Homo sapiens: one gene and its partners. The protein of the gene in region 2 interacts with the protein of the main gene of each other region in a pairwise test. Each region holds a gene or a part of one and is shown on either strand. Other genes may lie near its edges.

Evidence for each region.
Region 1: the proteins of GOLGA2 (region 2) and KIFC3 interact in binary tests that used the Homo sapiens proteins (3 or more experiments, as listed by UniProt).
Region 3: the proteins of GOLGA2 (region 2) and ZFP2 interact in binary tests that used the Homo sapiens proteins (3 or more experiments, as listed by UniProt).
Region 4: the proteins of GOLGA2 (region 2) and PKN1 interact in binary tests that used the Homo sapiens proteins (3 or more experiments, as listed by UniProt).

Annotation. Positions count from the first base shown.
Region 1 is NC_000016.10:57,792,492-57,799,538, reverse strand, and holds part of KIFC3 (kinesin-like protein KIFC3), read left to right. Parts: intron 1-1,256; coding exon of another isoform or gene 1,257-1,295; coding exon 1,296-1,467; exon of another isoform or gene 1,468-1,834; intron 1,835-4,397; coding exon 4,398-4,540; intron 4,541-7,047. UniProt on the Homo sapiens protein: Minus-end microtubule-dependent motor protein. Involved in apically targeted transport. Required for zonula adherens maintenance.
Region 2 is NC_000009.12:128,255,329-128,259,007, reverse strand, and holds the end of GOLGA2 (golgin subfamily A member 2), read left to right. Parts: coding exon 1-1; intron 2-437; coding exon 438-553; intron 554-809; coding exon 810-1,028; intron 1,029-1,115; coding exon 1,116-1,218; intron 1,219-1,300; coding exon 1,301-1,407; intron 1,408-1,482; coding exon 1,483-1,639; intron 1,640-1,726; coding exon 1,727-1,941; 3' UTR 1,942-3,179; downstream 3,180-3,679. UniProt on the Homo sapiens protein: Peripheral membrane component of the cis-Golgi stack that acts as a membrane skeleton that maintains the structure of the Golgi apparatus, and as a vesicle thether that facilitates vesicle fusion to the Golgi membrane.
Region 3 is NC_000005.10:178,898,909-178,905,955, reverse strand, and holds part of ZFP2 (zinc finger protein ZFP2), read right to left. Parts: intron 1-7,047. UniProt on the Homo sapiens protein: Probable transcription factor involved in neuronal differentiation and/or phenotypic maintenance.
Region 4 is NC_000019.10:14,436,301-14,443,347, reverse strand, and holds part of PKN1 (serine/threonine-protein kinase N1), read right to left. Parts: intron 3,072-7,047; exon of another isoform or gene 3,058-3,071; coding exon of another isoform or gene 3,019-3,057; intron 2,206-3,018; coding exon 1,905-2,205; intron 1-1,904. UniProt on the Homo sapiens protein: PKC-related serine/threonine-protein kinase involved in various processes such as regulation of the intermediate filaments of the actin cytoskeleton, cell migration, tumor cell invasion and transcription regulation.

The DNA of each region.
Region 1 (7,047 bases), on a different chromosome or scaffold from region 2:
GTGCAGCTGCAGACTGGGTGCAGTGGGGCTGCAAACATGAATGTGTGTGGGCCCATAGTGGGTCAGGGGAGGTGGACACCCTTCAAATAGCTATCTTCACTTCCTGGCAGGAAGTGGCCACTGCAGTGACGGATGGGGAGAGTAGTCGACAGCCCAGGAAGCTCCACTAGGAAGTCCTTCAGTTACCCCCACCTCAATCTTAAAACCCCATGTTGCCTCTCCAAGCTGACTTCGCTTCTTCTGTAAATGACATTACTGTCTGAGTCTGGGACTGTAGCATGATCACCTTAAATGTCCTCAAGGTTGCTTTGCACACAGTAGGTGCTCAATAAAGACTTCTGCAGGGAATACCTGAGCTCTGTTCATTTGTTCAGTTCATGAGGGACCTATCCCTGACTGAAGCTTTCTATCCCTGACCAATGCTCTCTGCCCCCCTCCATTCCCCACACCACCTGGTGCCTGGCTCGCACCTGCCGCCTCCAGTAGCCTGCTCAGACTGTGAGGGTTTTTTTGAAGTGTTTATCTCCCTTCTGACTGGGAGTTTTCAGGCCTCATCTCTTCTGATCCAAAAGGACCCCTGGCAGATGCCTGGCACCCAGTAGGCATTATTAAATGAAGACTGAATGAATCTTTGTATCTCAACACCCATACGGTGCCTGCCACATGCTAGGCACAGAGCGCAGGCTAGTCGAATACATGAATGAGAACTTACTGTATATAGACTTCACTTGTCATTGGCCACAGTCAGGGCCCTTTTGAGTCCCTCCTCAGTGAAATGTTAATATTCAGAGCATTCACTGCTCTGCTGACAGGCCTTAGGCAGAGCAGCCTGAAGCCTAAGGGTTAAGCATGTGGTTAAGTGCAATTAGAAAATTAGATGTCTTGGAGGAAAAGGATTAGACTTACGGAGATGCTGCTGACTCGCGGTGCCTCCTCTGTGTGGGGCTAGGACCTGGCTTGTCCTCAGGCTCCAGGCTCAGCTGGGAAGGGCTCAGGTGTGGGGTCTCAGGCACAGCTGATATGCAACTTTCGCACTTCGGAGCCTCCGTATTCGGAAACAAATACCCCCAAAAGGCAGCAGGCCCCATTTCATCCTGCGAGCCCTAGGGTCTTTGGGGGACAGTGCAGTTGGAGCTGCTGCGCTGGGTAACCAGCGACCGGTGGGGCGTAGACCCTTCCAGATGGCTGGCTCTGCCCGAGGTGCAGTTGTGCTGGTCCACGGTCTTCAAGCTTATCTCCCCTTGTTCTCTCCGCAGGCTGCCTGGTGCCCCGAGGAGGCTGCTGAGCCCCAGGCCATGGTCCCCTCTCGCAGGACGTGGAACCTGGGAGCCACGCCCTCGCTGCGGGGCCTGTGGAGAGTGGGCCGGGCCCCGGAGCCCGAGCCGGGGATGGCTCGCCCCGCCCCAGCCCCAGCCAGCCCGGCCGCCCGCCCTTTCCCACACACCGGCCCGGGGAGGTTGAGAACTGGTGAGTCCGCATTTTTAAAATGCCTCTTTATTTCCCTTCCTTCCTCCAGATACCAGAGATGAGACTGAGGTTTCTCACCGGTTCCTAAGCCCAGTCAGAGCTGTCAGGTAATTACAGGGTAACCGACAGCCCAGAGCCAGGCGGGCGTGGAGCCGGAGCGTCAGTCTCGCCGGGCGCTCCTTCCCTGCGCCCCTGTCTGGAAAAGAGGAGACCTGGAAGCCGGGTTAAACTTTAACACGGGTCGGGCACAGAGCAGGGGGAATCAGCTGCATTCCCTCTGGCCAAGCTGGTCAGAGCTCTGCGGGCTGCCGTCCTTGGCCAAGAGCGTGTGGGCTAGCTCCGGTCTCTGCCCAGGCTGGTAAACAAGGTAGGTGAAGTGGCTGCCTGGGCACCAAGCGCCGCTGACACTTGATCCTGCCTGGGCTGGCCCCTGGACGGCGTTGGGAGTGGACCGAGGCTGCTCGGGAACGTGGCCTGGCGGGGCTTGGGGTCCATGTGCTCATTTCAGGTGCTTCTGTAGAGACCCTGACAGCAGGTGGGCAGAGGTCCCAGAGTCTTGGCCCCCACTGTACCCCCCGGGGAGCTGTCAGTGCCAGCTCGCCTTTCTGGGTCATGTCCCCCGGTGCTGCGAAAGTCAAGAAGTGAGCGGCTTCTCTGATTCAGGGCCGGGACTGGATTGGCGGGGCCGCGGAGCTGTCCATGACCCTCTCCCGAGGCGTGGGCAGGTCGCCCTGGTAGTGTGGGGGAGAGAGGGCTCTCCAGGCAAGGTGCCTTCAGGGGTCTGCTCCCTGTCCCTCGTGACCTACAGGAACAGGGTCTAGACTGCCAGCCTGTGAGAGCTAGCAGAGTCCCTCTGGGCCATCAGGTCCAAGCCCCTTGGTGCACAGAAGGGGAAACTGAGGCCCAGAGAGGGCACACAGCAAACTCCTGTTCACCCCTCTCTCCCACCACATTTGTGCTGTCAGTGGCAGCTGGACTGATGCCTTCCGAGGTCTCTCTGCTTCTATGGTTGTCTGGGGCTGGCTGCTCCCAAGCAGCACAGCCAGGCTGGGGATGACCCAGGGGCCTGGGGAAAAGCCTGGGCTTTTGGGCCAGGTAGCCCAGTTGTCTGAAAGGGGCAGAGGATGGCCTCTACCCCATAAGGTTGTCCTAAGTATTACAAATGTAATATGAATGAGTATTGCTTTTCCGGTAAAACAAAAGCATTTTCCCTTAGAAAACTTAAAACACATAGAAAAATATCAAAAAGGAAATAAAAATCACAAGTTAGTCACTGAACATTTTATGTAGTGCCTTCTAGTCGTGTGTGTCTGTGTGTGTGTGTGCATGCATATAGGTCTTTGAAATATTGTGTTATCTCAGCTTTCTAACCTGAAGGAAAAAATTGGGTATTATGAAGATTATATGACCATACAGACTTTTATCCACTTAAAAAATTTAAGACAAAGGTCAGATGAAATCCTGTGTGTGAAATGCAAGCGCCGTGCCTGCCACTGGGCCTCAGCCAGCTCAGCTGCCCCAGGCCCCTCTGAGTCCCCCGACCAACCCCCATATTGCCACCCTGAGAATTGGCTGGCAGAGGGTTGATTAGCACATGGGATTTGAATCCTGGCTCCCTGTGACCCTGGGCACATTGTTAACCCTTCCAGGCTTCCGGTTCTTTGCCTGTCAGGTGGGGAGAATGCCCCCCACCTCCCTGGGGAGTTTTGAGGAGCTGATGGCTACTGTAGTCCTATTGGCCTGTACTGTGGGCCCTTTCTGTGTGCCTGGCACTACATGGGCACCACGTGTATTTCATCCCATTTGATCCTTATCACAGGGCTGTGAAGTTGTCCCCATTTTATTGACAAGCAAACTGAGGACCAAGAAGGTGTGTAAAGGCTGGGTGCTGTGGCTCACGCCTGTAATCCTAGCACTTTGGGAGGCCAAGGCGGGCAGATCACTTGAGGTTAGGAGTTCAAGACCAGCCTGGCCAACATGGTGAAACTCTGTGTCTGCTAAAAATACAAAAATTAGTTGGGCTGGTGGTGCGCACCTGTAATCCCAGCTACTCGGGAGGCTGAGGTATAAGAATTGCTTGAACCCGGGAGGTGGAGGTTGCAGTGAGCCAAGATCGCACCACTGCACTCCAGCCTGGGCAACAGAGAGAGGCCCTGTCTCAAAAAAAAAAAAAAAAAAAAAAAAAAACAAAAAAGCCCAAAAAAACAGAATGTGTGTAAGGCCTGAAAAGCACTTGGCCCAGTGGCTGGCACTCGGGATATTGTTACGCCCCAGGGTAGTGGCTCTGCAGTGTGCCTCATGACTCGTGAGGCTGGCCCCCATCCCACCCTGTTCAGCCCTGCAGGTGGAGGTGGGTGGCTGGGGCATTGCTGCCACAGCCCGCCCTCTCTCCCATGGGTGAGGGAGGCGGTGTGTCAGAGGCACAAGGGGATGCACGTTAGCTGGTTCTGAATACGCTTGGGGAGGCAACGGAGGCTGGGCCACCTGGTTTGGATTTTGTCTTAATGAAGTCAGGGAAGAAATTGCCACCTAGAGGCAGCCGGGGTAATAAAGCCATAGCCCCTGTGCAAGTCCTCAAAGCTTCATGCAGGCTGGCTGGCAATGGCTTCCTTCCACTTCCCTGCTGAGCAGATGCCTGCCCCAAAAGCCACTGTGGGGATAGGGGAGCCTCCGGTGGGGTATTGGGCCCCTTCCAGAAGAGAATCTTTGGGCGGCTTTTGGTAAGGAAGGAGCGTAGCCACTGCCCCGAGCCAGGCCTTCCCCTCTGCAGGGCAGGCGTTTTTTGGGTGTGTGAGCCCCTCCTGGCCACATCTGGACCAGCCAGGGATGTGTGAAAGCTGAGCTCAGCTGCGGCCCTGGCCAGTGGTCCATGGCTAGCAGTCTTTGGCCAGTGGTCGGAGTGTCTCACCTATCTCTCTGTCCTGGGACAGGGCGTGGAAAAGATACCCCAGTCTGCGGTGACGAGGACTCCAGTGCCCGAAGTGCAGCTCGCCCAGCCCTAGCTCAGTGCCGAGCCCTTAGCGTGGACTGGGCTGGCCCCGGAAGCCCCCACGGGCTCTACCTGACCCTGCAGGTAAGCACTGGGGCCTTCCAGGCTGCATGTGCCTTGGCTCTCTGAGCTCCAGTGGCTGGGTTCCTGCCAGGCTTCTGGGGGTAGGAAGCACCTGGGGAGAGCCGGGGACCCACCTCGCACCTCTCTGTTGGGCCCCTCATGACCCCTCTGCCTGGGAGCCTGCTTTATTAAGTCAGACGGGAAATCTCATAGGAGCTGACAGGAGCTTTTCAGCCATGCCCTGGCTGAGGTGTTAAAATGGGAAGCATGGGGCCTTAGCTGAGATGGGCAGAGCTTGGAGAAGGTATTGGGAAAACAGGCAGGTTTGGGGTGGTTGATTATTCTGAAACATGGTTATGTGAGTATTTCCTTGTATTTCCTTGGGAATATTTCCTTGTTTGAAGTGAGAATTCAAAGCTAGATGGAGGATTCACTAAAACTTGGGGTCTTCTCCCTTGCAGTTATCACCAAGTGACTTTAAAATGACAAAGTAAGGCTAGGCGCGGTGGCTCAGGCCTGTAATCTCACCACTTTGGGAGGCTGAGATAGGAGGATCGCTTGAGCCCAGGAGTTCACGACCAGCCTGGACAATATAGTGAGACCCTATCTCTACAAAAAGAAAAATAAAAAATTAGCTGGGCATGGTGGTTCCTATAGTCCCAGCTACTCAGGAGGCTGGGGTGGGAGGATCGCTTGAGCCCAGGAGGTTGAGGCTGCAGTGATTGCACCACTGCACTCCAGCCTGCGTGACAGAGTGAGACCCTGTCTCAAAAAAAAAAAAAGAAAAGAAAAAAGATAAACTTTACATATGTATGTATATTTGGCTATAGAAATAATACATAACGATAATAGTAATAAGAGCTACTGTTTATCAAACATGGACTCTGTGCCAGGCATTAAAAGATCTCATGTTAGTCCTCATCATACTCATAACAATCTCAGGATACAGTATTTGATCTGAGCTTTATAGATGAGGATGTGGAGGCTCAGAGAGGTTAAGTTACTCGCTGCTGGTCACATATTCGACCATTCAACACAACTAGCCTTGTAACAGGGCAGAGATACAGTTATCCAGAAACTGCCTCTCTTAGTCCTCTATCTTTGAGAAATCCACTATTAAGTATTTGGTGTTTATTTGTTTATCTTTCCTATATAGAACCACTTAATTAAATTTATATGATTTTTATTTTTGAGATGGAGTCTCGTTCACTCTGTTGCCCAGGCTGGAGTGCAGTGGCGTGATCTTGGCTGTAATATCCGCCTCCCGGGTTCAAGTGATTCTCCTACCTCAGCCTCCTGAGTAGCTGGGATTACAGGTGTGCATCATCACACCTGGCTAATTTTTATATTTTTAGTAGAGATAAGGTTTCACCATTTCACCATGTTGGCCAGGCTGGTCTTGAACTCTTTTTTTGTTTTTTTTTTTTGAGACAGAGTCTCGCTCTGTCGCCCAGGCTGGAGTGCAATGGCATGATCTCAGCTCACTGCAGCCTCCGCCTCCCGGATTCCAGTGATTCTCCTGTCTCAGCCTCCCAAGTAGCTGGGATTACAGGCGTGTGCCACCGTGCCCAGCTAATGTTTGTATTTTTAGTAGAGACAGGGTTTCATCATGTTGGCCAGGCTGGTCTTGAACTCCTAACCTCGAGTGATCTGCCCGCCCCAGCCTCCCAAAGTGCTGGGATTACAGGTGTGAGCCAGTGCACCCAGCCATATTTATATGATTTTTTTTTTTTTGAGACAGAGTCTCACTCTGTTGCCCAGGTTGGAGTGCAGTGGCATGATTGCAGCCCACTGCAACCTTCACCTCCCAGGTTCAAGCGATTCTCATGCCTCAGCCTCCCGAATAGCTGGACTACAGGCATGTGCCACCACACCTGGCTAATTTTTGTATTTTTAGTAGAGATGGGGTTTCACCATGTTGGCCAGGCTGGTCTTGAACTCCTTACCTCAAGTGATCTACCCGCCTCAACCTCCCAAAGTGCTGGGATTACAGGCATGAGCCACAGTTCCCAGTGCATATTTATATGATTTTTATTATTTATTTTACATGTTATTCTGTCACTAGCTCTTTCCCTCAAGTAAGTCCTGGTAATCTCTTCATGCTCATCAACACATAGAGAACTACCCTTTTTTTTTTTTTTTTTTTTTTTTTTTGAGCAAGGTCTGGCTCTGTTGCCCAGGCTGGAATGCAGTGGTAGAATCTCACTGCAACCTCCAGCCAAGTCATCTCACCTCAGCCTCCTGAGTAGCTGGGACTACTGGCATGTGCCACCACACCTGGCTAATTTTTGTAATTTTTGTAGAGACGGAGGTTTCATCATGTTGCCCAGGCTGGTCCCGAACTTGTGGGCTCTGCCTTGGCTTCCCAAAGTGCTGGGATTACAGATGTGAGCCATTACGCCCGGCCCTACCTCTTTCTTTTACACGGCTGCGTAATAGTCTACTTCAGGGCTTACCATAAATTATTTATAACAGATCCTCTGTATTGTTTCTGATTGCAGTGAGCTCCTTAAACAAATATCTGTGCT
Region 2 (3,679 bases):
GGTACGGGAACCTGCTCACAGGAAGAGGAGAGAGCCCCAGGAAGAAGGGGGGACTGTTAGCAGCGTAGAATTGAGGAGTTGGAAGAGACCTTTAGAACAGCTGGTCATTATGCCAACTGGGTGTCCACACTAAGTTCGGCATCAATATGGTGACTTCCTGGGAGCAGGGCACTACCAGCTTACCTAAGGATGGGTGAACTGGCCCAGGTCAGAAATGAAGCAGGTCAGAACTCCCATGCTGATCGGTAGTGGGACTGCACCTGGGCAGCATAGCGAGCCCTTGGCTCTTAAAAAAGAATAAAATAAAAATAAAGAACAGATGCTTATTTCCCTCTGGGGAGGGGCTGGCCCAGGGTTACACAGTGAGGGTGGGGGCAGAGGTGGGCCCACTGTACCCTTGTTGGGTTGTCTGATGACCCCTCTGGCCACCCCCATAGGAGATGGACTGGACCGGGAGGAGGAGGAGGATGAGGAGGAGGAGGAGGAGGAGGCGGTGGCAGTACCTCAGCCCATGCCAAGCATCCCGGAGGACCTGGAGAGCCGGGAAGCCATGGTGAGGCTGACTCCCCCTCCCCAACCTTTGCTGCCTCCCTCTGTGGTCCCTCCCAGACCCCCTTCTGCTCTTGGTTTCCCGGCCTTCTGATTTCTTCGGACCCTCACCCCTTTCCTGGGAGCCAGTGGTGAGACACCATTTCACTTGGGACCAACAAGTGCACCCTCTGAGGCCCCAAGGGAAGGGCTGCTCTCTACCTCCCTGCCCTGTTCATCCTATATATCCTCCTACAAGAATGCACCCCTCTTGCCTGCAGGTGGCATTTTTCAACTCAGCTGTAGCCAGTGCCGAGGAGGAGCAGGCAAGGCTACGTGGGCAGCTGAAGGAGCAAAGGGTGCGCTGCCGGCGCCTGGCTCACCTGCTGGCCTCGGCCCAGAAGGAGCCTGAGGCAGCAGCCCCAGCCCCAGGGACCGGGGGTGATTCTGTGTGTGGGGAGACCCACCGGGCCCTGCAGGGGGCCATGGAGAAGCTGCAGGTGAATGAGTCTCTCCTGGCATGGGTCAAGAAGGGTGGGGGCGGGGCAGGTCGCTGCCGATATATGACTCCATTATTTTGGTTCCAGAGCCGCTTTATGGAGCTCATGCAGGAGAAGGCAGACCTGAAGGAGAGGGTAGAGGAACTGGAACATCGCTGCATCCAGCTTTCTGGAGAGACAGACACCATTGGTGAGTGGGAGGCCAGGGCACGGCAGGAGGAGCTGCACAGCGGTCGGAGGGAACCCAGCATCTGAGCCCTGTCCTCCCGCAGGAGAGTACATTGCACTGTACCAGAGCCAGAGGGCAGTGCTGAAGGAGCGGCACCGGGAGAAGGAGGAGTACATCAGCAGGCTGGCCCAAGACAAGGAGGAGATGAAGGTAGGGTGTGGAACATCTCTGGGGGTGGAGGTGGGCACGGGCATGGGCATGGCAGCTTAGCACCCCTCCCTCCAGGTGAAGCTGCTGGAGCTGCAGGAGCTGGTCTTACGGCTTGTGGGCGACCGCAACGAGTGGCATGGCAGATTCCTGGCAGCTGCCCAGAACCCTGCTGATGAGCCCACTTCAGGGGCCCCAGCCCCCCAGGAACTTGGGGCTGCCAACCAGCAGGGTGGTGAGTAGAGCCCTCGGGAGGGGTGGGCAGGCAGGAGTAAGGGAGGGCTCGCGTGGCACTCAGAGCCCTGCCTCTCTCTCTCCAAAGATCTTTGCGAGGTGAGCCTCGCCGGCAGTGTGGAGCCTGCCCAAGGAGAGGCCAGGGAGGGTTCTCCCCGTGACAACCCCACTGCACAGCAGATCATGCAGCTGCTTCGTGAGATGCAGAACCCCCGGGAGCGCCCAGGCTTGGGCAGCAACCCCTGCATTCCTTTTTTTTACCGGGCTGACGAGAATGATGAGGTGAAGATCACTGTCATCTAAAAGCCGGCTACTGTCAGCAAAGCCTGAAGAAGTGGGGCTGGATACCCTGCCCCCACCATATCCCTACCATCCCTTCTCAGTCAACCCTTTACCCTTACAGTAGCAAGCATAGACCCCTGTCTAACGGGGGTAGACAGGTGCAGATGAGGTGAAGATCACTGTCATCTAAAAGCTGGCCACTAAATTAAAAAAAAATTAAAAGTTATGGGATTAAAAAAAGTTATGGGATAAAAAAGGTTATGGGTAACTTATGGTATAAAAGTTATGAAAAAAGGCCAGGTGCAGTGGCTCACGCCTGTAATCCCAGCACTTTTGGGAGGCTGAGGTTGGGAGTTCAAGACCAGCCTGGTCAACATGGTGAAACTGTGTCTCTACTAAAAATACAAAAATTAGCCAGGCATGGTGGCACGTGCCTGTAATCCCAGCTACTCGGGAGGCTGAGGCAGGAGAATCGCTTGAACCTGGGAGGTGGAGGTTGCAGTGGGCTGAGATCACGCCATTGCACTCCAGCCTGGGCGACAGAGTGAGACTCTGTCTCAAAAAAAAAAAAAATTATGAAAAAAGTTATGGGATTAAAGAAAGTCAGGATAAAAATTTTAAAAAGCAGGCCACTGTCAGCAAAGCCTGGAGAAGTGGGGCCGGAGGCTCCGCCCCCATCATGTGCCTGCCACCCCTTCCCAGTCATCCCTTTACTCTTACAGTAGCAAATAAGACCCCTGTCTAATGGGGGGAGACAAATGTGTAGACCCTTAGCCACCTTGGCCAGGGCTGACTCCTTAAATTTCTGGATGATGATGATTGTTATTTAATAGCCAGAGGCTCATATAATTGGCCTCTTTGGAAGAGGCCTCATGGCCTCCTTACTCTCACCAAAGCAATTTTTCCCTCAGGGGGGCTCCCATCTTCTTACACAGAGAGGCAGCTGAGGCAGGACAGTGGGGCTAACTGTAGACCAGGCGAGGGCACGGGCTGCTGGGGTGGCCCTGCTTCCCCAGTGTACATATTGTATCTGTGTAACATTTTGTATATTCCAGGGGTAGGGCCGCCCCCTGTATCATACCTAGCAGAGGTTGGAGCTGGCACATGGGGAGGAGGTTCTAATAATTATTTGGGGCTGGGAAACTTATTTATTGATAGCATAGGACAGAGGAAGGAGGCGGGGATGGGGTCGTGGCGCCCTGGTGATGCGACTCCTGTTTATTTTGCTTTTTATTTCGGAATAAATGGATTTAGCCATACTGCTCTGCCTGATGTGTTCCTGTTTCTCTCACTGGGTCCTGGAGTTTGTGCCACTGAACAGGGAGCCCCAGAGTGTCTGAGCATGTGCAGCTGGGCTGTTGGGACCTTCCAGGCTTGTTACCTGTATGCTGCCTGGTGACATCTTGGGGATTACACGGGGACTACCATGGTACCTATGGGGACAGTTTGGCCCCGATGGCCAACAGGCTCAGAAGCCTGATCTAGCGGTGGCCAGGAAGACAGGATGCCAGCACCCAAGGGCACTGACTTCCATCCAGCCCAGGTGTCTTCCATTCTGTCCCCCTGCCTCCCTCGCCTGCCTGAGCCTGGTGGCCTGTTCTGTCTGTCCCTCCAGAATGCCAGCCGCCCTGCCGGCGCCCTCCAGGCTGAGTTAATGGCCCTGCCCCCTAGTGGCCAGAGCCCGCTTCACAGGATGAGAGCCCCCTAAGCTCCAGGGGCTTTCCAGGAAAAATGTCCCTTGGAAAAGATGTGGTCTTTT
Region 3 (7,047 bases), on a different chromosome or scaffold from region 2:
ACATGACGAAACCTTGTCTCTACAAAAAAGACAAAAATTGGCTGGGCGTGGTAGTGTGCACCTGTGGTCCCAGCTATTCGGGAGGCTGAGGTGGGAACATGGCTTGAGCTCAGGAGGCAGAGGTTGCAGTGGGCTGAGATCACACCACTGTAGTCCAGTCTGGGCAATTCAGCCAGGCCTTGTCTCCAAAAAAAAGAAAAAAGAAAAAAAAAAAGAAAGTGAACATGGAACTTAGTAATATACATTTGTCATCAATTCCTTAAGATGTTTTATTCCTTTCCTCCTTTCCATTTAGTATGAGTCATTTTCCCCCTAGCACTACATTCAGTACAGGATACCTCATAGTGTTTAAGGAGCTTCATGGGTTTATCTTACTCATACAGAGGTTTTCTTAAACCTAAAAACAAAGGCTTTTTGATACAGTTATTGTTTGAAAAAACTGCATATCAAATAGAATAAGGACATTATAAATGATGAAAGCATAATTTATAAGTAAAATATGATAGTGATGAAGTTTTAGGCACTGCAGCAGCAAAGTGTCTTCAGATATGATACTGAGCAATCCACATTTTTTCTTTACAAAATCACAATCATATTTAAACTCCAATTACAACAGCAACAGAAAATGAAACACCTAAGAATACATTTAAGAGAAATATGCAAGATCTTCATGATTGGTCTGTAAAGAGTTAAAGGCCATAATGAAAGATCTGAATAGAATAAAGTATCATTTTTTTACTTAATATGAAGAATAAACATCGTAAAGATGGCAATCTTCCTCAAACTGACTTACACACTTTGAAATTCAAATCAGAACTGCATAATTTTACTTTTTTACTATTACTGTTGGAACTTCATAATAAAATTCGACTATTAAGGATAAATATACGAGAACAGTAACGAAACTTTTGAAACGAAAAATGAGGGAAGAGTTGCTTTACGAAATACCAAAATGGGCCGGGCGCAGTGGCTCACTCCTGTAATCCCAGCACTTTGGGAAGCTGAGGCAGGCAGATCACGAGGTCAGGAGTTCGAGACCAGCCTGCCAGCATGGTGAAACCCCGTCTCTACTAAAAATACAAAAAGTTAGCCAGGCGTGGTGGCACGTGCCTGTAGTCCCAGCTACTGAGGAGGCTGAGGCAAGAGAATGCCTTGAACCCGGCAGGCAGAGGTTGCAGTGAGCCAAAATCATGCCATTGCACTCCAGCCTGGGAGACAGAGCAAGACTCTGTCTCTCAAAAAAAAAAAAAAAAAAAAAAGCAAAATGAATTCTGAGACAACAAATACAATAGTGTGGTACTACAACAGAAATAGAACAATGGAATAGAATCCAGAAAAATAAACATATATATAAATTTTAAAAATAAACTCATATATAAATATATGTAAACTATATTATAATATAAACTCTCATATATATTTCATATATATGTGACAATTTGGCATATTTTAAAGGTTCCATTTCAAGTCCACGGAGAGTGAGCAGATTATTTCAGTAGATAACATCAGCTCCAATGCCATCTCCTGAGAGGGGCCACTCCTCTGCTGAGCTAAAACAGCCCTGAGTGACACTCTACCATGTTCCCCTGCTGCGTCCTCATCACAGCACCTAACACTATCCTCAACCACATTTCCTCTTTATTGTCTGCATCCCCTGTGGAAAATAAGAGCTCAGAGAAGGAGATCTTGCCTCTCTTACTCACTGCAACACTCCCAGTATCCAGAACACGGCACACCACATGGCAGAGAAGCGCTAAATATGTTTAATGAGTGGATGGATGGATGAAATGCTTCACCACATCATGTTAAATGAAGTTAGATCCCTACTTCACATCACAGACAATACATTCCAGATAGCACAAGGATGTAAATTTAAAATTATAAAACTAATAGAAAACACAGAAAAAGATTTATATTATCTTGGGGTACAGAAAACTTTTCTTTTTTTTTTCTTTTTTCTTTTTTGGAGATGGAGTCTCACTCTGTTGCCGGGCTAGAGTGCAGTGGCACAATCTTGGCTCACGGCAACCTTCACCTCCCGGGTTCAACCGATTCTCCTGCCTCAGCCTCCCCAGTAGCTGGGACTACAGGCACGTGCCACCATGCCCAGCTAATTTTTGTATTTTTGTATTTTGTAATTTTGTATTTTTAGTAGAGACGGAGTTTCACCGTATTGGCCAGGATGGTCTCAATCTCTTGACTTCGTGATCCACCCACCTCGGCCTCCCAAAGTGTTGGGATTACAGGCGTGAGCCACCATGCCAGGCTCCTTTTCATAGCATGATCCCAAAGCCAAGTAAAGAGAAAGGAAATTTAACTGCATAAAACTTCAAAACTTTTTTGTAGCAAAATATATTATAAACAAATTTAAAAGAAACATGACAGAATACTGGCAACGTATAGCAAAGGAATACTATCCACTTTATAGGAAAGACCTCTTTTATATGTAAATAACTCAATATAAAAATGGGCAAAGGGTGTAGACAGGTATTTTAAAAGGCTGGAAGAATGTACATCATAGTTGTTTCTGAGGGTTGGAAACTTGGAATTCTCTCTCATTGCCTTTAAATTTTTAAAAAGGGATAGTAGATATGATTAGTCTATATGCCCAATATTTATATTCAAAAAAATATTAAATTTAAAGGCAAATAAAAGTAACACCTAGACAATTCATACTACCATCACTGGCCAATATGGGAAAGATGAAACTACGGAGAAAGATGAAAAAAGGAAAACAGCTCTAATGTTGCATTGATATGTCCCAAGTCTATTACTGTACTTCGTAATTGCATTCCATTTACAGGTTATAAACACATCTAGTTGACAATTACACTTTATTTCTCAACATCTGAGTTACTCATTTCTCATCTACTGTACAGTTCCAAGTGATTCATCAGTAATTCAGAGAAGCAGCAACAAAAGTGACAAAATGCCTGTCATCAGCTGCTATCAAGTGTCTAGACTAATGTCCCTTAAGGCAGACTGGTTAACTAAACTATGATATGCCCACATAATCAAAGAAAGAAGCCCCGATGTACTGATATGGACAGGTCTCCAAGATATATTGTGAAATGCAAAATAGCTAAAAATAGAACAGGTGCAGACTCCTGAGTAAATATTATCTGTTATCAACTGGATTAAAAATTGGGAAAATACATACTTTTATGGGCTTTTGTAGTCATCTCTGGAAAGCTACATAAGAAATGAGAATCATTACCTTTTTATGAGAAGAGATAATAGGGAGCTTGGAGACAAGAGTAGGAAGAAGATTTATTTTAAGTGAATGCTTATTTTTGAATTCTGAACACTGACTGTATCAGCCATTCAAATTTTAATTAATCACAATCTGAATCAAATTATCAGCAAACATCAAACAAACCCACATTGAGGATCATTCTATGAAATAATTGGCCTGTACTCTTCAAAAGTATCCAAGTCATTGAAGATCAATAATGAACTTTTCTAGATAAAAGGAGACCAAGGAGATACGACAGCTAAATACAATGTGTGATGTGGATTGGATTCTGCACCAGATAAAGGACAGTTGTAGGACAGGTGGCAAAATCCAAGTAAGGTTTGTAGTTTGGCTAATAGTATTGTATCGATGTAAGTTTTCCTTATTTTGATAACTGTATTTTTGCTAGGTATGATAATAGAAAGCACACACGGACACTTAGAGTGAAATGGGCATGTCTGTAATTTATTCTCAAATGGTTCAGAAATATATATACACAAACATGTGTGTGTATACAGGAAGAGAAAAATGGCAAAATGTTAATTTAGATGAAGACTATCCAGAAATTGTTTTATTTTTGCAGCATTTGTTGTTGTCTCAGTCTGTCTCCCAGGCTGGAGTGCAGTGGAGTGATCTCACGTCACTGCAACTTCCGCCTCCTGGGTTCCAACGATTCTCCCACCTCAGCCTCCTGAGTAGCTGGGATTACAGGTGTGTGCCACCACGCCCGGTTCATTTTTTGTATTTTTAGTAGAGACGGGGTTTCACCATGTTGGCCAGGCTGGTCTCGAACTCCTGACCTCAAGTGATCCACCTGCCGTGGCCTCCCAAAGTGCTGGGATTACAGGCATGAGCCACCGTGCCCGGCCTTGCAGCAGTTTTTAAAGTCTGAAATTATTTCATAATAAAAGTTAAAAAAAAAACAAACCAAAAAACCACAAGATGCATTTTCCACCCTTGAAAATAACTAAAATTTAAAAAGCTTATAATACCTAGTGTTATGAACTGTGTCCCCCAAAAAAGGTATGTTGAAGTCCCAGCTTCTAGTACCTTGCAATAGGACCTCATCTGAAAACAGGTTGTCTCAAATATGACTGGTATCCTTATAAGAAAAACGGCTATTTGAAGACATGAACACATAAGGATAACATCAGATGACAAAGGAGGTAAGGATTAGAGCGATGCAGCCATGAACCAAGGAACACCAAAGAGTGCCAGCAAACCACCAGAAGCTAGAAGCTAGGAAGAGTAAAGGAAGGATTCCCCCACCAGTTTCAGAGAGCAAGGCCCTGCAAATGCCTTCATTTCAGACTTCTGGCCTCCAAAACTGTGAGACAATAAATTTCTATTGTTTCGAGCCACTCAATTTGTGGCACTTTATTACAGCAGCTCTTGGAAATGGATACACCAAGTATGGAAGAGCATGTAGAGCGACTGGAATTCTCAAATACTGCAGGAGGGAATGTACAATGGTACATATACTTTGGAAAACAGTTTAGCTGTTTGTTACAAAGTCAAATGTACACTTGACCTAGGTATTTACCCAAGAGAAATTAAAGTATATATCCACAAAAAGACTCATACATGAATGTACAGAGCAGTTTTATTCATAATAGCTAAAAACAGGAAACAACTTGAAATGTCTGTCACAAGTGAATGAACAAAAGGTGGTATATTCAACTGTGTACTACTTAAGACAAAAAGGAACAAACTATTACTACACACAATATCATGTAAAGACCTGAAAAACATTACGTTGAGCAAAAAAAGCCAGGCATAATATATACTGTTTGATTTCATTGACATGAAGTTCTACAAAGGGCAATACTGTAGGGACAGAAATCAAACCAGTGACTTCCTGGGGTGGGGGACGTGGAGTAGAAGTGGCACGAGGACACTGTCTGGCTGGGGTGGGGGACGTGGAGTAGAAGTGGCACGAGGACACTGTCTGGCTGGGATGGGGGACGTGGAGTAGAAGTGGCACGAGGACACTGTCTGGCTGGGGTGGGGGACGTGGAGTAGAAGTGGCACGAGGACACTGTCTGGCTGGGGTGGGGGACGTGGGGTAGAAGTGGCACGAGGACACTGTCTGGCTGGGGTGGGGGACGTGGAGTAGAAGTGGCACGAGGACACTGTCTGGCTGGGGAGGGGGACGTGGAGTAGAAGTGGCACGAGGACACTGGCTGGCTGGGGTGGGGGACGTGGAGTAGAAGTGGCACGAGGACACTGTCTGGCTGGGGAGGGGGACGTGGAGTAGAAGTGGCACGAGGACACTGGCTGGCTGGGGTGGGGGACATGGAGTAGAAGTGGCACGAGGACACTGGCTGGCTGGGGTGGGGGACGTGGAGTAGAAGTAGCACGAGGACACTGTCTGGCTGGGGAGGGGGACGTGGAGTAGAAGTGGCACGAGGACACTGGCTGGCTGGGGTGATGCAAAAGTTCTGTACCTTGACTGAGGTGGTGGCTATGTTGGTGCATAAATTTGTCAAAACTCAATGAATTCTATGCTTAAATTGGGTTATTTTATTAAACTGTGCCTCAGAAAAAGCTGATTTAAAAATTAACACTATTTTGGCTACATAAATTAAAATGTAGGTTACTGACAACCAAACCACAACAGTCATCAACCAAAATCTTCTTAATGCTTCCCCTTTCAACATTTCCCTCTTCCAGAAACTCCCTTTGTCCAATACCCCCATTTTAAAAGTTATTTTGCCTTTTATAACTGAGTTTGATAATACTGAAGAAAGCAGTACAAATGGAAATCACAACAGTTTATACTTGCCTCCACGAAGCTTTCTTTAAACTGGTCTCTAATAAATAAACAAGTGATCCTAATAAATCAACGACCCCTAATACATACTTTTATGAGAAGAGAAAATGCCGTTAAGTCTTCAGTATTCCAGACAACAAGGCTAAGTAAGTTTAACCTTAAAAAAAAAAAAGAAGTTAGGGCCAAGTCTTCTGATGCCTTATTTTCTTTTTCAGAGAAGCCTGGAATCCTCACCTACTATCCCAGCTCCATGCTTCCCTCCATCTCACGGACACTACTTTTTCCTAGGAAAGTTTTGATTGTGCGAACTCCCTTATCAAAATTCCTCAGACTGACCTCCACCCCCATGGCCACCACCCTGCCAAACACACAAACTCCTCCTTCCCGACACTTGGTCCTAAAATTTTTATCCGATTTCTTCTACTCCAGCAGAGCATTTCTCACTATCAGTCACTGCCCCCTTCAGTCCACCTCTAAAAGTCTATACACAGGCTCTTGGCTGGGATGATACTAAGAATGCCTACAACTTACTGAATAACTTCAACATTCCAGGAGCCATGCCAGGCATTTTTTACTTTTATTATTTTATTTGAACTTTCAACAGACCTATGAAGTAGCTATTACTATTAAATGAAATCAGCCAGGTGACGTTCTTCATGTCACCTATATGGCAGACAGGTAATGCTGTAATTCCTATTATGACCATGAGAAAATAATGTTTCAGGAAAGCCAAGCCTCTTGCCAAGACAATGTAGCTATTAAATGGTAGAGCTGGGATTTAAACTCTGGACACACTGACTCCCTTATAACAAATCCTCTCCAGTTATCCCTTCCCAACCCCTGAGATGGGCAAACACTACCTACTTCTCCTGGCCACCACCCTGATCCTCCCCTTCACTCCAGCTTGGAATACGGATAAACTGGGTCCCTAACCACACTTGTTCTTATTACCATATTCAGGTGCAATTATGACTGTATACCATGCAGATGTGCCCTCTTTTATGATCCCTGAGAGCCCATAAGCCCTATAAGCACCAGC
Region 4 (7,047 bases), on a different chromosome or scaffold from region 2:
GCAGACAGGCAGGCAGGGGGACACCAGGGCCCAGCAGTCTACCCACCCACCCTCCCAGGGAAACCCCTCGGGGCTGGGGCAGAACCCAGGATGAATGAGTGCAGGCGAGCACCCAGGTGTGTTAGTGTGTCCTTGGTGCTGGGTCCACTGCATTTGAGAGGCCCATGAGTAACTACGTACATGGCTTGTGTGAGCCTATGGGTGTGGGAGTGGTGCCATCTGTGAGCTGCAGGGTGTTGGCATGGCTGAGTGTGTGTTTCCCTAGGTGTTAGTGTAACTCTGTGAGACGCCATGTGTTAGAATGACTGTCTGAGATTGTGGGTGTTGGGAGATGCTCTGCGTACATCTCTGACTGTTGCTACAACTGTGAGTTCAGATCTCCAGGTTGGTATGACTGAGTCTCCGGGTGTTGGCACATCCGGATGCATGTGTCTGCATGAGTCTCTGGAGAGTGGTGTGATGCTTGAGGGGACCCTGGGTGCAGAAATGACTGAGGCCGGGCGCAGTGGCTCACACCTATAATCCCAGCACTTTGGGAGGCCGAGGCAGGCGGATTGCTTGAAGTCAGGAGTTAAATACCACCCTGGCCAACATGGCAAAATCCCGTCTCTACTAAAAATGCAAAAATTAGCCAGGCGTGGTGGCTCATGCCTATAATCCCAGCTACTTGGGAGGCTGGAGCAGGAAAATCACTTGAACCTGGGAGGTGGAGGTTGCAGTGAGCCGAGATCGTGCTATTGCACTTCAGCCTGGGTGACAAGAGCAAAACTCTGTCCTTCCCCACCAAAAAAAATTCAAGCTGCTGAGTGAGGTGGCTCACACCTGTAATCCCAGCATTCTGGGAGGCACATCACCTGAGGTGGGTGGATCAGTTGAGGTCAGGAGTTTGAGACCAGCCTGGCCAACATGGTGAAATCCCATCTCTACTAAAAATACAAACATTAGCCGGGCGTGGTGGTGCAAGCCTATAGTCCCAGCTACTCAGGAGGCTGAGGCAGGAGAATCACTTGAACCTGGGAGGTGGAGGTTGCAGTGAGCTGAGATTGCACCACTGCTCTCCAGCCTGGGTGATGGAGCAAGACTCCATCTCAAAAAGAAAAAAAATGTTAAAACCAATAAAAATGTTTTAAATTAAAAAACAGGCTGGGTGCAATGGCTCACGCCTGTATTCCCAGCATTTGGGAGGCCAAAGCAGGAGGATCACTTGAAGCCAGGAGTTCTAGCCAAGCCCTGGCGGCATACCAAGACCCTTTCTCTACAAAAAAAAAAAAAAAAAAAAAAATTAAATTAGCCAGGCATGGTGGTGTATGCCTTTAGTCCCAGCTACTTGGAAGGCTGAGGTGGGAGGATTGTTTGAGCCCAGGAAATTGAGGCTATAGTGAGCTTTGATCACACCACTGTACTCCAGCCTGGGTGACAAGGCAAGATCCTGTCTCCAAACAAAAACAAAAATAAACAGTCTTTGGTTATCATCCATGTAACTGTGGGAGTTTCTGGGTATTCGTGTGACAGTGTGCACATCCTTGAGTGTTGCCTGGGGTGTTGGCGTGGCTGTGTCTGGAGGTATTCGTGTGACAGTATGTGCACCCTTGGGTGTTGCCTGGGTGTTGGTGTGGCTGTTTTTTTAGGTGTTTGTGTGACTGCATGCACATCCTTGAATGTTGCCTGGGTGTTGGCGTGGCTGTGTCTAGAGGTATTCATGTGACAGCATGCACGGTCTTGAGTGTTACCGGGTGCTGGTGTGGCTGTATGCACCTCTCTGGGTGTTGGTGGCTACGGGGGTCATGGCATGCATCTCCCTGGGGGTCCGTGGAGATGGGTTAACCTGGCTCTGGAGACCATGGGTGAGCCAGTGAGCAGTGGAATCCCTGGAGTCCCGCATCCCCAGAGGCATCCCAGCTCACCGTGGGTGGCCGCCGGGTCGGGAAGCACCACGTGGGCGTGCAGCTCCTGCAGCTGCTGGTGCAGCAGGTCGAGGCGGCGCGAGGAGCCCCGCAGCAGCAGCTCTACGGGGCCCAGGCTGCGGCCCAGGTCAGTGGTGGCCCGCCGCAGGTTCTCAGCACCCTCCTTCAGCTTCAGCTCCTTGCGGATTTCCCGCCGCAGCCGCTCCCGCTCCAGCTCCAGCTGCTGCTGTACCCCGGGGGCCGCCAGGTCTGCCCCGGCCAGGCCCAGCTGCTCTAGCAGGGACCAGCTGCGAGGCTCACTCTGCGGAGGACAGAACAGGGTCAGTGGAGCTAGGAGAACTCCAGGTGCAGACCACATGCAGCCAGCCTGGCCCAGCCTCTGCCCTGGACTGGGGCTCCCAAGACAGGGCCTGCTCTACCTCCTCTGACTCCCAAAACTGGAAGGTGACGAGGCCTTGCCACTGCTTCCTGACCTCCCCAAACTGGGAGGTCTCAAGAGCAGGGCCTTGTCACCCCCACCACCACAGCGTCCCCCACATTAAGGGGGTCTCAAGAATAAGATCTGTCTCCCTTCTGCTGCCTCCCCCAAACTAGAGGGTCCCAAGGGAAGATTCCTTCTTTTCTCTGCTGCTCCCCGAAACTAAGAGGGCCCAAGGGCAGGCCCTGTCTTCTCTCTGCTGTACCCCTAAAACTACAGGGTCCTGAGGACAGGCCCCATCTTCCCTCACTTGTACCCTGAAACTATGGCATCCCGAGGGCAGGCCTCATCTTTCCTTGGCTACACCCCCAAAACTAGGGTATCCCAAGGGCAGGCCAAGTCTTCTCTCTGCTGTACCCCCAAACTATGGGGTCTTGAAGACCCTCATCTGCTCTTCTCCTATGTTCAACAACTGGGACCCTAAAGAACAGAGCCCGGTCTCCTTCCTTCTGTCTCTCCCCAATCTGGGAGCCCCGAAGGGCACTGGATACTCTCATCCTCCAGAGAGAGAACTCTGAGGCCAGTGCCCCATCTCCTCTCCTTGTTCCCAAACTGAGAAGTACCCGGGGAAGGACTACTGGCCTGTGCCACTTGGGGCCCCCTTCTGCCTGCCCCCACAGGGACCCTGGACCCCACCTCCAGCTCCTGCTCCGAGGGGTTATTGGCCTCCGCCATCCTGGGTCCGGGCTGAGGGCCCCGCCCTCTTCCTGAACCTCAGCCCCACCAGGGCCTCTCGGCTGCCACTTCCTCTTTCCTGTCAACTCCCAGCACCCCTCGCGCGGGGCCAACTCCAGGGCATCTAAGGGACCTCCTGTTCCTCTAGATGAAACCCAGGGACAGTCCTTGCTCCCTGTCCCTAGAGAATGTCCAAGGTGCAGGCAGTTTGTACATTCACACACTCATGGTGTATCCATGAGGGGACGCAGGCTCCGAGGGCTGACTTGAGTGTGCACTAACTTTCAAATACATATGTGGATATGCACAGAACACAGGCTCACAAATGTTTGCACGCTTTCTTTTTCTTTCCTTTTTTTTTTTTTTTTTTTTTTTTTGAGACAGAGTCTCCCTTTGTGTTGCCCAGGCTGGAGTGCACTGGTGTGATCTTGGCTCACTGCAACCTCCGCCTCCCAGGTTCAAGCAATTCTCTTGCCTCAGCCTCCCAAGTAGCTGGGATTACAGGCATGTGCCGCCACGCCCAGCTAATTTTTGTATTTTTAGTAGAGACAGGGTTTCACCATGTTGGCCAGGCTGGTCTCGAACTCCTGACCTCAGGTGATCCGCCCCCCTCAGCCTCCCAAAGTGCTGGGATTACTGGACGTGAGCTACCGCGCCTGGCCTGTGTTTGCACAGTTATGGCTGCAGGTGTGTGCCTGCAACACAGGCTCACATGTGTGCACACTCCCATGCCTGTGTGTGTGGATGAAACAAAGATCCACACACAGGTGCACACTTCTACACCTGCAGGTGTGTGCCTGGAAAATGGGCTCACAGTGTACCCATTCCCATGCCTACCACATATGCACTTATTTGCAAACACATACAAGTGCTTATGAGCTTCCCTCTAGAACCCATACAAGACACACTCCCACCTGCCCGAGAGGGCATGGCCCACATGCTCATGCGTGTGCACATGCTCACACACATATGCACGCTCCCCGAGGCCCCTGCAGCACATCCATGCTCCCACAGACCTCCAGCCCTGCGACTACCTGCATATGTCCCTCCAGACTCTCCCAGCCACCCCTTGTCCCCGGCTTCCCCTTCAGGGTCAGAACAGCCACTTCTTCAGAGGTGAGGCCCCTTTCCTGCAGACGGGCCCTCCCAACTTCCTGCTTCCTCTCAGTCCAGTCGCCAACTGTTATTGACCATAGCTGAGAGGCCCGGGGTCCCAGCCAGCCCAGTGGCACCTCCCTCAGGCCAACACAATTAGGGGACAGCACTGGGGGACTGGGATAAGAATTTCCAAAACCAGGCCGGGCACGGTGCCTCACGCCTATAATCCCAGCATTTTGGGAGGCCGAGGTGGGTGGATCACCTGAGGTCGGGAGGTCGAGACCAGCCTGACCAACATGGAGAAACCCCGTCTCTACTGAAAAAAAAAAAAAAATACAAAATTAGTCGGGTTTGGTGGTGCATGCCTATAATCCCAGCTACTTGGGAGGCTGAAGCAGAATCACTTGAACCCAGGAGGCAGAGGTCGAGGTGAGCCAAGATCGTGCCATTGCACGCCAGAGCGAAACTCCGTCTCAAAAAAAAAAAGAATTTCCAATTTCCAAAATCACGCCGGGCGTGGTGGCTCACATCTGTAATCCCAGCACTTTGGGAGGATGAGCGAGGCAGATCACGTGAGGTCAGGAGTTCAAGACCAGCCTGGCCAACATGATGAAACCCCGTCTCTACTAAAAATATGAAAATTAGCCAGGCATGGTGGCACGTGCTTGTAATCCCAGCTGCTTGGGAGGCTAAGCATGAGAATCGCTTGAACCCAGGAGGTGGAGATTGCAGTGAGTCGAGATCACACCACTGCACTCCAGCCTGGGCGACAGAGTGAGACTCTATCTCAAAAAAAAAAAAAAAAAAAAAGAATGCCCCAAATCAGCAGCCTACAAAACCACTTGCTAAGCACACAGTAACATTCAAGAACAACTTATGATGGCATTACTTCCTGATAAGCTCATCATAAGTTGCAAATATCATAAGTCAAAAATGCATTTAATATATCTTACCTACCAAACATCATAGCTCACCCTGGCCTACCTTAAATGTGCTCAGAACACTTACCCAAGCCTATAGTTGGGCAAAAACGTCTAACACAAAGCTATTTTACAGTAAAGTTGAATATCTCATGTAACTTTTTTTCTTTTTTTTGAGACAGGGTCTTACTCTGTTGCCCAGGCTGGAGTGCAGTGGTGTGATCATGGCTCCCTGCAGTGTCTACCTCCTGGGCTCAAACAGTCCTCCCAGCTCAGCCTCCCGAGCAGCTGGGACTACAGGCATACGCCACCACACCTGGCTAATTTTTGTATTTTTCATAGACATGGGGTCTCACTATGTTGCCCAGGCTGATCTCGAACTCTTGGCCTCAAGTAATCCTCCTGCCTCGGCCTCCAAAAGTGCTGGGATTACAGGTGTGAGTCACTGCCCCGTGGCCAGGGCCTTGATTTAAAACAAGAGCACCCAGATTCCAAATGCTGGCTAGGAAATGGCCCCCTGGGGTTATCTCCTTCAGCTGGGAGCATCCATTTCACAGACAAGGAATGTTATCCTTGGCTCGTGACTGATCTCAAGCGCAGCTGCCCCCAGGGAGGAATGCCACAGACCAAGTGTATCACTCCCACCATCTTCCCAACCCTCACTACAAATCTTGAGCAGCTGCCAAGAACTCCCCACTTCACAGGTGAGGAAACTGAGGCTCAAGGAAGTCACAGTAGTATGTTTTGTTCGTTGGTTTGAGACAGAGTCTTGCTCTTTCGCCTAGGCTGGAGTGCAGTGGTGCAATCTCGGCTCACTGCAATCTCCACCTTCCGGGTTCAAGCAATTCCCCTGCCTCAGCCTCCTGAGTAGTTGGGACTACAGGCACGTGCCACTGCGCCTAGCTAATGTTTTGTATTTTTAGTAGAGACGGGGTTTCACATGTTGGCCAGGCTGGTCTCAAACTCCTGACTTCAAGCAATCAGCCAGCCTCGGCCTCCCAAAGTTCTGGGATTACAAGTGTGAGGCACTGTGCCTGGCCAGTAACAGTTTTCCATTGAGGGGAGATTTTCTCCCCATACCCGGGGACATGCGGCAACATCCGGAGACATTTTTGGTTGTCCTGACTGTGGGTAAGGAGGTGACTTCTATCAGGGTGAGGCCAGGGATGCCACTCAACGCCCTGCAGTGCACAGGACAGCCTCTACTGCAAAGAATGACCCAGCCCTGAATGTCAGTAGTGCTAAGGCTGAGAAGCCTACGGTTAAGGGTCATAGATTTGGCCAGGTGTGGTGGTTCACGTCTGTAATCCCAGCGCTTTGGGAGGCTGAGGCAGGAGCAGTGCTTGAGGTCAGGAATTGGAGATAAGTCTGGGCAACACAGCAAGACCTACAAAAATCTCTACAAAAAATAAAAAAGTATTGGCCAGGTGTGGTGGCTCTCTCTGCCTGTGATCCTAGCACTTTAGGAGGCCAAGGCCGGAGGACTGCTTGAGCTCAGGAGTTCGAGACCAGCCTGGGCAATAACGGTGAGACCCCATCTCTACAAAAAATGTAAGAATTAGCCAGGTGTGATGGCATGTGCCTGCAGTCTCAACTACTTGGGAGCCTGAGGTGGGAAGCTGGCTTGAGCCCAGGAGGCAGAGGTTCCAGTGAGCCGAGATCACACCATCACACTCCAGCCTGGCCAACAGAGCCAGGCTTTGTCTCAAAAAAGAAAAAAAGAGGCCAGGCGCGGTGGCTCATGCCTATAATCCCACCACTTTGGGAGGCCGAGGCAGGCAGATCACGAGGTCAGGAGATCTAGACCATCCTGGCTAACAAGGTGAAACCCTGTCTCTACTAAAAACACAAAAAAATCAGCCGGGCATGGTGGCGGGCGTTTGTAGTCCCAGCTACTTGGGAGGCTGAGGCAGGAGAATGGCGTGAACCCAGGAGGCAGAATTTGCAGTAAGCCGAGATCAAGCCACTGCAC